Regions from separate parts of the Homo sapiens genome. Here region 2 is linked to region 1. Evidence: fine-mapped expression QTL. A gene starts in region 1. The other region holds a variant in brackets. All regions are shown on one strand. Distances are from middle to middle. Region 1 holds the start of GPR135 (G protein-coupled receptor 135). Region 2 holds the start of LOC124903326 (a long non-coding RNA gene).

What was found. PIP is the estimated chance that this variant, and not a neighbour inherited with it, causes the effect. A credible set is the group of variants that fine-mapping cannot tell apart.
Region 2: its variant is the best candidate, but not a certain one, in a credible set for the expression of GPR135 in T cells (TOPMed, PIP 0.69).

The regions. Positions count from the first base shown.
Region 1 is chr14:59,462,942-59,468,323 of GRCh38, reverse strand. It overlaps GPR135 (G protein-coupled receptor 135), which reads left to right and starts at 2,944. Exons shown (of 1, transcript NM_022571.6): 1 at 2,944-5,382. The coding sequence starts at 3,098. The coding sequence ends at 4,582. It also overlaps a transcript of L3HYPDH not described here. RefSeq lists a silencer at 2,874-3,413.
Region 2 is chr14:59,487,108-59,492,489 of GRCh38, reverse strand. JKAMP (JNK1/MAPK8 associated membrane protein) reads right to left here. Exons shown (of 7, transcript NM_016475.5): 3 at 4,662-4,816. LOC124903326 (a long non-coding RNA gene) reads right to left here and starts at 4,655. Exons shown (of 2, transcript XR_007064196.1): 1 at 1,624-4,655; 2 at 439-929. It also overlaps a transcript of L3HYPDH not described here. The variant C/T (reference allele first, on the strand shown) is at 2,988.

The DNA of each region.
Region 1 (5,382 bases):
GAGGAAGCAGGGTCAAATCATGCAGTGCCTTGTAGGAAATATTAAGGATTGGGGTCCTTATTCTAAAATAAATGGGGAAAGCCAATAGGATTTTTTTTAAAAGAGACATGGTCTCACTATGTTGCCCAGGCTGGCCTGTAACTACTGGGCTCATACGATCCTCCCTCCTCAGCTTCCTAAGTACCTGGGACTACAGGCACATGCCACTACACTGGCCTAATTAGAAGAGTTTAAATAAGTAAGTGGCATGAAGAATTTTTTTAAGAGCATTATGCCTAGCTGCCTACAATGTAGGAACTGGATGTGGGAAGACCGGTTAGGACAACAGTGACAACAGTAGTCCAAAGAGAGGATGAGAGCCAAGATTCAGGATGGAGGAGATGAATGGATGCAAAGATAGTCCGCAACTAAAATCCATAGGTCTTGGTTGATGAATTGGATGTGGACTGGTGGTAAGGAGGAGGGATTCATCAAGGAAAACTCTTAAGTTTTTGGCTTAAAAGCTAGAAGGATGGTTCTACCATATTCTGAGATACAGAGTATTGAAGACCAAGTTTTACCGGGGAAGTAGGAAGAAGATCATGCACCCATTTGATGTGCCACTGGCACATCAAGGAGAGAGATGCCAAGTAGCAGGACATGTAGGTTGGGGCCACAGACATAATTTGAGTAATGAATATATAGATTATCTTTGAAGTCCTGGATGTGAGTGAGATGGGGCCGAGGGGGGAGTCCAGAGGAGCTGAGAACAGGGCTTTGATGAACTCCAGCATGTAAAGGCAGGTGGAAGAGGATGAACTGGCAGAGGAGAGGACACTGAGAAAGATGAGGAAGGAAGGAAGCAGAAGAGTGCAGTCCTTCTGGTCCTTCTGAACCATGCACTTGCTCACGGCCCTCCCTTATGCTATTAGCCCCTCCTCCCCTGATGAAGTTCAGTCTCCAGAGCATGGCCTACAAGGCCCATCATAAGGTAGCCCCAATAAACTTTGATCATTTATTTCCTTCTTCACTCCCCATCTCCAATATCCTAGAATTCAGACACTGCTCACTTCAACACTAACCTCCAGACTTTGCACATTCATCAAATGTTCTTTCCCTTTCTTCTTTTTTTAAAAAGTCTAATGTCACCTCTTGTACAAAGTCTTTGTCAGGAAGACAAATAATTTCACTCACATATTTTTAAGACAATATTTAGCACACTGTAATATACTGTGTTGGCCGGTGGCTTAAGCTTATTTGGGCTGGGTTTCCTATCTTATATGTTGTTTCCTAAAACTAAGCACAATCTGAGAAGATTGTGTTTGCCAAATAAATTAATGTATGATAATTATATTTTTGCTTTGATTGACAAAATTAAGACAAAATCAGTCTAGATTAAGCTGGCATTGACTGCTCCCAAGAGGATATTTGGCAATATCTGAAGACAGTTTTAGTTGTCACAGCTGGGAGAGGTGCTACTGGCATCTCGTAGGTAGGAACTAGGGATGCTGCTGAACATCATACAATGTATAGATGGCCCCTGCAATAAAGAATTATCTGGCCCAAAAGTCCATGACGCTTAGGCTGACAAACCCAGTTTTGGTTTGCCACCTTAAACGTTCTTCTATTTATACTGTAAATTTCCTGTAGGATATTTTTTCTGAATGAAATAAGCACTCCAATACTAATACCATTGATTCTAAGATCTACAAATATACTAGTCATTCTTTAGAGCAGTGTTTCTCAAATTTGTGCATCAGAATCACTGGGAGGGCTTGTTAAAACATAGGTGCCTGGGCCCCACCACAGGAGTTTCAGTAGATCAGGGGTATCCTATGCACTGTAGGCCTGATAATTTGTATTTCTCAAGGTTTCCAGGGGATGTTGATGCTGCTGGTCCAATGTCCATACTCTGTGAACCACTGCTTTAGCGAAGAGCCCAGGGTTAGTTAACCTGAGGGTTTATCACACTTTTCCCCATTAGAGGCCATGCCCAGAAACTTGAGATGCAACTTCCCTGGGTAGCCCTGCCTTTCTTTTCCCCGTATCTCCCAGCCAGGTACCTGGAGCTGCATCTGTGGTGATTGCCAGGCTGGCAGCACCTTAGACTCAAAACATACCCCATTCCTGAGAACAGATGAAGGCTGCTAGCAGGGCAAGGCACCAATCCCTCTCCCCCCATTTATCAGCCAGTAGGGGCCTGAGGTCCAGGCCCTTGGAAATGAAGTAACATCTAAAGGAACTATCCTAGCTCCTCAGAGCACCTGTATCAGAATCACCTACGGGGTTTAGAGTCATGGGCCCATCCTTAGTAATTCTGTCAGCCTGGGAATCTGCATTTTATGAAACTCTTGACATCAGTGCTTCTGTAAGTGTGGTCCTGGGACCAGCATCATCATCACCACCCGCGAACCCGTTAGAGATACAAATTCTTGGGTACTTCCCCAGACATATTCGAAACGCTGGGGTTCAGACCTCGTCACTTGTATTTTAACACGCCCTCTATGTGAATTCTGTTAGCTCAAGTTTGAGAATTACTGGTTTAAATTAGTCTGCTTCTCAAGTTTAAGATGTCTGGATGTAGACTTCTGGATTTTTCTTTCACTTCACTTTCTAGATTCCTTTCCTACCTGTATATACCAAAAGCACCCACAGGAAGCAGAGTGCCCCCCCCACCACTCCCCAAAAGGCCTGCCTGTAGAACATTTGTACCCTACAAAAGAGAGCAAGAGTGAACTTTCGTTGAATCTGGTCATTTGTTTGCATGCCAGTCGGCACTTTATCTGGCCGGACATTGGTCCCTCAGGAGGTCGACCTGGCACTCTCGGAAACCCGAACACCCGGGCCGGTAACCTCCGGAGTGGCGGTGTCGCGGGTCGGCTTTGCAGCGGGTACTGGGCTGCCGTCCCGCCCCGCGCTCCTGCGTAAACACGCGGTTCCCTCGGCAACGCTGGAACCCACGTCAAAGGCTCCGCCAGGTCCCCAGCGACCGCCACCCCTCCGGCCGAGCCCAGCTCCCCGCGGCGGCCGCTAGCCCCCGGCCCCGAGCCACCACTCCGACCTAGCGGCCGCCGCCCCCGGTGCGGGATGAGGAGATCCGCGGCCGCCACTGGGCCCCATGGAGGAGCCGCAGCCGCCCCGCCCACCAGCGAGCATGGCCTTACTGGGCAGCCAGCACTCCGGCGCCCCCTCCGCGGCCGGCCCACCTGGCGGGACTTCCTCCGCGGCCACGGCGGCCGTGCTCTCCTTCAGCACCGTGGCGACCGCGGCGCTGGGGAACCTGAGCGACGCAAGCGGAGGCGGCACAGCTGCCGCTCCCGGTGGCGGCGGCCTTGGCGGGTCCGGGGCAGCGCGGGAGGCGGGGGCGGCGGTGAGGCGGCCGCTAGGCCCGGAGGCGGCGCCGCTGCTGTCGCACGGAGCTGCAGTGGCGGCCCAGGCGCTCGTCCTCCTGCTCATCTTCCTGCTGTCTAGCCTTGGCAACTGCGCGGTGATGGGGGTGATTGTGAAGCACCGGCAGCTCCGCACCGTCACCAACGCCTTCATCCTGTCGCTGTCCCTATCGGATCTGCTCACGGCGCTGCTCTGCCTGCCCGCCGCCTTCCTGGACCTCTTCACTCCGCCCGGGGGTTCGGCGCCTGCCGCCGCCGCGGGGCCCTGGCGCGGCTTCTGCGCCGCCAGCCGCTTCTTCAGCTCGTGCTTCGGCATCGTGTCCACGCTCAGCGTGGCGCTCATCTCGTTGGACCGTTACTGCGCTATCGTGCGGCCGCCGCGGGAGAAGATCGGCCGCCGCCGCGCGCTGCAGCTGCTGGCGGGCGCCTGGCTGACGGCCCTGGGCTTCTCCTTGCCCTGGGAGCTGCTCGGGGCGCCCCGGGAACTCGCGGCGGCGCAGAGCTTCCACGGCTGCCTCTACCGGACCTCCCCGGACCCCGCGCAGCTGGGCGCGGCCTTCAGCGTGGGGCTGGTGGTGGCCTGCTACCTGCTGCCCTTCCTGCTCATGTGCTTCTGCCACTACCACATCTGCAAGACGGTGCGCCTGTCGGACGTGCGCGTGCGGCCGGTGAACACCTACGCGCGCGTGCTGCGCTTCTTCAGCGAGGTGCGCACGGCCACCACCGTCCTCATCATGATCGTCTTCGTCATCTGCTGCTGGGGGCCCTACTGCTTCCTGGTGCTGCTGGCCGCCGCCCGGCAGGCCCAGACCATGCAGGCCCCCTCGCTCCTCAGCGTGGTGGCCGTCTGGCTGACCTGGGCCAATGGGGCCATCAACCCTGTCATCTACGCCATCCGCAATCCCAACATTTCGATGCTCCTAGGGCGCAACCGCGAGGAGGGCTACCGGACTAGGAATGTGGACGCTTTCCTGCCCAGCCAGGGCCCGGGTCTGCAAGCCAGAAGCCGCAGTCGCCTTCGAAACCGCTATGCCAACCGGCTGGGGGCCTGCAACAGGATGTCCTCTTCCAACCCGGCCAGCGGAGTGGCAGGGGACGTGGCCATGTGGGCCCGCAAAAATCCAGTTGTACTTTTCTGCCGAGAGGGACCACCAGAGCCGGTGACGGCAGTGACCAAACAGCCTAAATCCGAAGCTGGGGATACCAGCCTCTAAGACGGTTGGAATGGCCAGCTTATGAAGGCAAATTTCCACTCGCATTATTTAATGATGGAAGATTCTGGGGGAGAGTTGTGGATTTCATAAAGCCAAACATTTAAAGCTAGAGACGGGGGAGGCTTACCACTTTCCCCAAACAACATAAAAGACAATGTCCCTTCTTCAAAAGTGCCAAAAGGAATGTAAAATGCAAAAATTAAAACAATCTTAAACCACATAACCAAGCATTGTGAACTGTAAGTGCCAAAAATGACAAAAATAACATTCACTATAACTGAAAAGCTCATATTATAGGACCACACTGTGAAACAAACAAAACATTGAATGCAACCAGTATTGTTCAACTACACAGAATTTCAGGAATGAATGGAGACCTTCAGAGCTGCTTGAAAGCCCCTCTAAATCGCTACCATCCAACAAAACTTTAGCTTCTAGAGCTTGCACCTCTGACATGCTTTGGGTGCTTAGATTGCAAGTGGAAAAGTCTTATCCTTACACACATTGGTGCACCTCCTCACCCCACCCCCTAATAACCTTTGTGGAAAATTTTTAATTCATAACCCATTTAAAATCATTTTAGGATTTTGAAAAGCTGGTTATTATTAGATAAAATTCAACCATCTGAAGGACAAATAGAAGTATGAACATAAAGAAATGTGTCTTTTAAATGTTTTCCAAGATTATATGTAAAAATTAACATTCCTTCCACCCGCGTCATACCTCCAAAATGATCTTCCTTGGAAAACTTTGAAGTTTTATCCTTACTCTAACCTGTTACTTTTATTTCTGATAAATTT
Region 2 (5,382 bases), 24 kb before region 1:
GTCACTTGCAGGACCCCAGAAGTTCATGGAATTGTTATAAGAGAGACTGGCTTCTGTGAGGTGTAAGACTTTAAGCCTGGACCACTCCCACACCTACCCAACATGGATCTCACCTTCTTGCACCTGATTTTCCATCTCCTTCTTTCTCAGTGCAATATTCCATTATTTCTATGCATTTTTTTCTAGTTCACTAATTCTATCTTCAACTGTTTAATCTGCTGACTACCTTTTTTTTTATTTTGGCAAGTATAAACTTTCATTTCTAAAAGTTTCCTTTTCTTCCCCATCACATGTATTTATTCCTAATAATCTTATTGTTATGGACAGCTTGTGACTACATCCTTACTTTCTTTATAGGTAGCAGTTACATATCCTGTAGGTGAAAGTCCATTATCTGTGTCCTCTCAGAGCATAAATATATTGTTTGTTGCATGTACCAATAAGTCCTAGTGCTATTTTATTTAGTAACCACAGACTATGAGGCCATTACTAGATTTTAATGAGCAAGAGTCTTACAGGGTTAAATTGAGAATGGGGAAGCTTTCCAGCAAAGAGGCTCTGCTACTTTTGTCAGCAGCCATGGCCACTACTACCTTAGGCTTCAGGCCCTTGAGGGTCTAGTCTTAGCAGAGGCTACCCAAGATTCAGTATCCAGATAACACTGCTGCTACCAGCAATTGACCTCAGACAACCCTCTCATCCCAACTGCCTGCCTTGTCACTCTGGCCTAACTCAGGGTGGGCTGGTTTGTGTTTTGAAAGAGAAGAGTTCCTGGAGATCTCTCCATCTCCAGCTGGGACCAGCAATGTCTCACATAGTTTATCTTTCCCAGACTTTAGTTATTTCATGCAGGTGGGTCACTTGGAGCTCCTAATTAACTCACATTGTTGGAAACAGAACTCCTGTGCCATTTTACAAAGATGAAAACACTGAAAACATAAACACACATTCACATTACATAATTTGACATTTTGCTTCCTTATAGAATTAATATTTTCAGAGGCAAAATCCCAACTTCATTATTTCTTGCCATTACTTTGATAACCTTCTTAACTGGTCTTCTTGTCATGTTCTCTTTCAACCTATCTACAGCCAGACACATAATCTTTACAAAATGAAATACAATTTTAGAACTCCTCTCATTAAACTAATTTTGAGTCTTTTTGTCTTTCTGGAAAAATACCCCCACCAGCATCGTCTTCTCTATTTCCTGGCCATGCTAAATGACTTTAAGTTCACTTGTGCCTCCACACATCTGGGCATGCATCACCCTCCACCTCAAACACATTTTACCTATCTGCCAAACCATGCATCCTTCCAGATCAGCTCAGGGGTTATCCCCAGTTTTTATGAACATTTGTTAAGACACCTCCAGCCCCCATCTATCTGGACTGTAAGTGCAAAATTTCAGGAAACTGTAAGAGATGGCCCTTGTGGTCCTTGTTACCAATTTCCTAGGCAAAGCACAGTTGTACAACTCCCTCTTTTTAAACCCACCTCCTTTCCTGTCTGAGCATTAGTCACTCCTCGCCTTCCCTCAAACCACCCTCTAGTCTCTGCTTCAAGTCTCTCCCTCAAAACATAGCTGACGTCTGAATTCAAACGCATTTGGTGAAGACATACCTATGCCTGTTAGCTCTTCTTTACTGTGGGCTGAGAACTTCCCACCAATTGACTGGACAATTATTCTATTTCAGCTTTGTCATATCTCCTTTCTCACCCCATCTCTCATCATTCTATTAATATAACAGAAATTAAAAACTGGATGAAAGCTGCTATTTTTAAAGTATTTTTATAAATTATTCTAAAAAATTATAAATGCTTTCCCAATGTAAATAACCACCCTGGATTTATTAGGTAGGCCCCAGAAAACTGCTGATTCTATTTCTATCTGACCATCCTTTCCATTTCCATTCCAACTACCATAGTCTATTTCTTTGACAACAGTCTTCTATTAAATATCTCACCTCTAATCTACCTACCCTCCACAGAAATTTTCTTCCTAAAATATACATCAAATGATGCCACTTCCATACACCAGACCTTCACCAATAAACGATTCACTCAAATACGGAGTGATTTTTTTGGATGCTCATTCCCTCCAAATCTCATGTTGAAATGTAATCCTCAGTGAGGTGGGGCCTAGTGGGAAGTATTTGGGTCATGGGAGTGGAAGCCTCATGAATGACTTGGAGCTGTGCTCACAGTAATGAGTGAGTTCTCACTCTGTGAGTTCATGTGAGATTTGGTTGTTTAAAAGATCCTGGTGGCTGGGCATGGTGGCTCACATCTATAATCCCAGCACTTTGGGAGGCTGAGGCAGGAGGACTGCTTGCGCCCAGGAGATCGAGACCAGCCTGGGCAACATAGAGAGACCCTGTCTCTACAAAATATAAAAAATTAGCAGGGTATGGTGGTACACGCCTGTAGTCCCAGCTACTTGGAAGGCTGAGATGGGAAGATCACTTGAGCCTAGGAAGTCAAGGTTGCAGTAACCAGTGATCACACCACTGCAATACAGCCTAGGTGACAAACCAGGACATTGTCTCGAAAAATAAAAACGAAAAGATAAATTAAAAAATAAAACATTAAAAAAAATGAAAGAAAGAGGTACCTCCTCCCCCTATCACCATGTGGTTCCCCTTTGCCTCCTGCCTCCTCTCACACTGGTTCCCCTTTGCCTTCTGCCATGATTGTAAGCTTCCTCAAGCCATCACCAGAAGCAGATGCCAGTACTATGCTTCATGTACAGCCTGCAAAACCATGGGCCAATTAAACCTCTTTTCTTTATAAATTACCCAGTCTCAGGTATTCCTTTATAGTAATGGAAATGGACTAACAGAAAACTGAAACTGAAGGGTAGGGCAGTGCTATAAAGATACCCAGCTTTGGAGCTGGGTACCAGACAGAGGCTGAAAGTGTTTGGAGGTCTCAGAAGAAGACAGGAAGGTGAGGGAAAGCGTGGAACATCTTAGAGCCTTAAGTGG[C/T]TGTGACCAAAATGCTGACAGAAATGTAGACAGTGAAGGCCAGGCTGATGAGGTCTCACATGGAATTAAGGAAGTTATCAGGAACTGTAGTAAAGGTCATCCATACTATGCCCTAGCAAAGAACTCTGCTGCATTGTGTCCATGTCCTAGGCATCTGTGGAAGTTGGAACTTAAGAGTGATGACTTAGGGTATCTAGTGGAAGAAATCATTAAGCAACAAAACATCCAAGATGTGCTGTGGCTGCTTCTAACAGCCTATGATCAGATAGATGTGGGAGCAAAGGAATGACTTAAAAATTGGGACTTATACTTAAAAAGGAAAGCGGAGTCTAAAAGTTTGGAAAATGTGCAGCCTGGCCATGTGGTAGAGAAGAAAAGCATTTTCAGGAGAGGAATTCAACCAGGCTGTACAGCAACTTGCTAGAGAGGTTAGCATGGCTAAAAGAGAGCCAAGTGCTAATAGCCAACACAATGAGAAAAAGGCTTGAAGGCATTTCAGAAGTCTTTCAGACTGCCTGTCCGACCACAGGCCCAGAGGCCTAGAAGGAAAGAATAGAAAGTAGGCTGTCTTCCTTATTTTTCTCTTTTAATTGGGCACTCTTTGTTTTGTTGTTGTTGTTTTGTTTTTAGTACTCAACTTTCTGAGTGACTTTTAAACTGAAATCAGAAGGAAAAGAAGGTAGCTAGGTAACAAGTTGCAGTCAGATGAAGAGAGTATTTCAGACAGCAGAAAGAGTTTGCAGGAAGGGAAAGAACCTAAAGTAGGAAAGATCCTGAGAAGTTGGAGGAACTAAAAGAAAATCAGTAAGGCAGAATTTGACTTCCCATTCCCAGCAGATTAAAGTTCACATGCTTATCAAGAACCTTCACATTCTGGCCTCAACCTATCTTTCCTACTCCCCTTTATATTACTTTTCTTCATTTGCAACCCACTCTTGACTACCCCAGATTACTTCCATTCCTGCCTACCACAGATCACATATTTCATACCTCTATGCCATTATTCATGCTGTTTCTTCTGCCTAAAATGTTCCTTTTTTGAAATCTTTCAGATCCCATGAGGCATAATTTATCTCTCTGTTCTTTGTAACTCCAGAGTACTTTGTTTATAACTCTTCCACTACATTTCTAAGACTGATTTATAATTATGTACACACTTGTTTTCTCCACAAGATTATGACTATAAGCCATGTCAGTTATTTTTATATCTCCTTCCCTGATCTTCCAAACATAAAATGCAGTGCTTAGTAAATGTGTGCTGATTTAATATGTTAATATGAGTTTTTGTATTAGGTTACAGCTATATCATTTTTAACTACATCATACTAGATTATTAGTATTAAATTAAATTACAAAGAATGTGTTCCATAACAATAAATAGCTTGTAATCATAACCAATTTTGTGTAGAAAACCAATAAGGATTATAGTTGAGAAGTAAAAGTATTCCTTCAAGATCACTGAGAGTAAAACAGACTAAGGACAGTTCCCTTAAAAATTACTAAGTCATGCCCTATTGTTAAGTTTTCTTGTCACAGTTAAGAATAATCTGAAGATAAAGAAAAACATGTTTACCACTTTTAAAACAGAAGAAGCATAATTACTTAATAAGGTCTTCTGAGTGATAATTATTCCAACATTAGTCCAGCCAGATATGTTCATAGAAATGTGCTAACCTCTTTTTCCCCGAGTACCATTCAATGAAGAACCAATGTAAAACCAGAGGAAGCATTGCCATAAATCCAAGATAGAGCCAATCATAAAGTTCAGGAGATTCTGTGCAAGGCTGACAATATTTCTGTGCATTCGTTCTCTGTCCTCTTGGGCATACCTATAATATATAAAACCAATATTTTGTGTACAGATATTATTTTACAACATTAACACCCCCCCAAATCATTCTATAAGACATCCCATTTCAGTTTAAATATTTAAGTTTACATGTGCAGCTTTTAGAAATAAAAAAGAGGGCATAAGTAAAATAAAAAGAAATCTATATTGTATGTGCTATATTTGTACAATGCTCTTAGAAGATTCCTTTTACTAAGTTACTAAAATAGTTGACTAACATTCAATGAAAAACCTAGTTATTAACATTATATAAGAATAACTGCAGATAAATGTTCTGGATTCATGATGTTCAACTTACTGTACAAGACACGGTACCAAATCATAAATTAGAAATTATTATAAAATTATTAAATGTTTTAAAAAATAATATAGACATCAAAATGCCAACATGAACAATGACTATATTAATGCCTCCATATTCTTTTATATTTCCTTATTTTATTTTTTTTTTGAGACAGAGTCTCCCTCTGTTGCCCACGCTGGAATGCAGTGGTGCAATCTTGGCTCACTGCAACCTCCACCTCCTAGGTTCAAGCAATTCTCCTG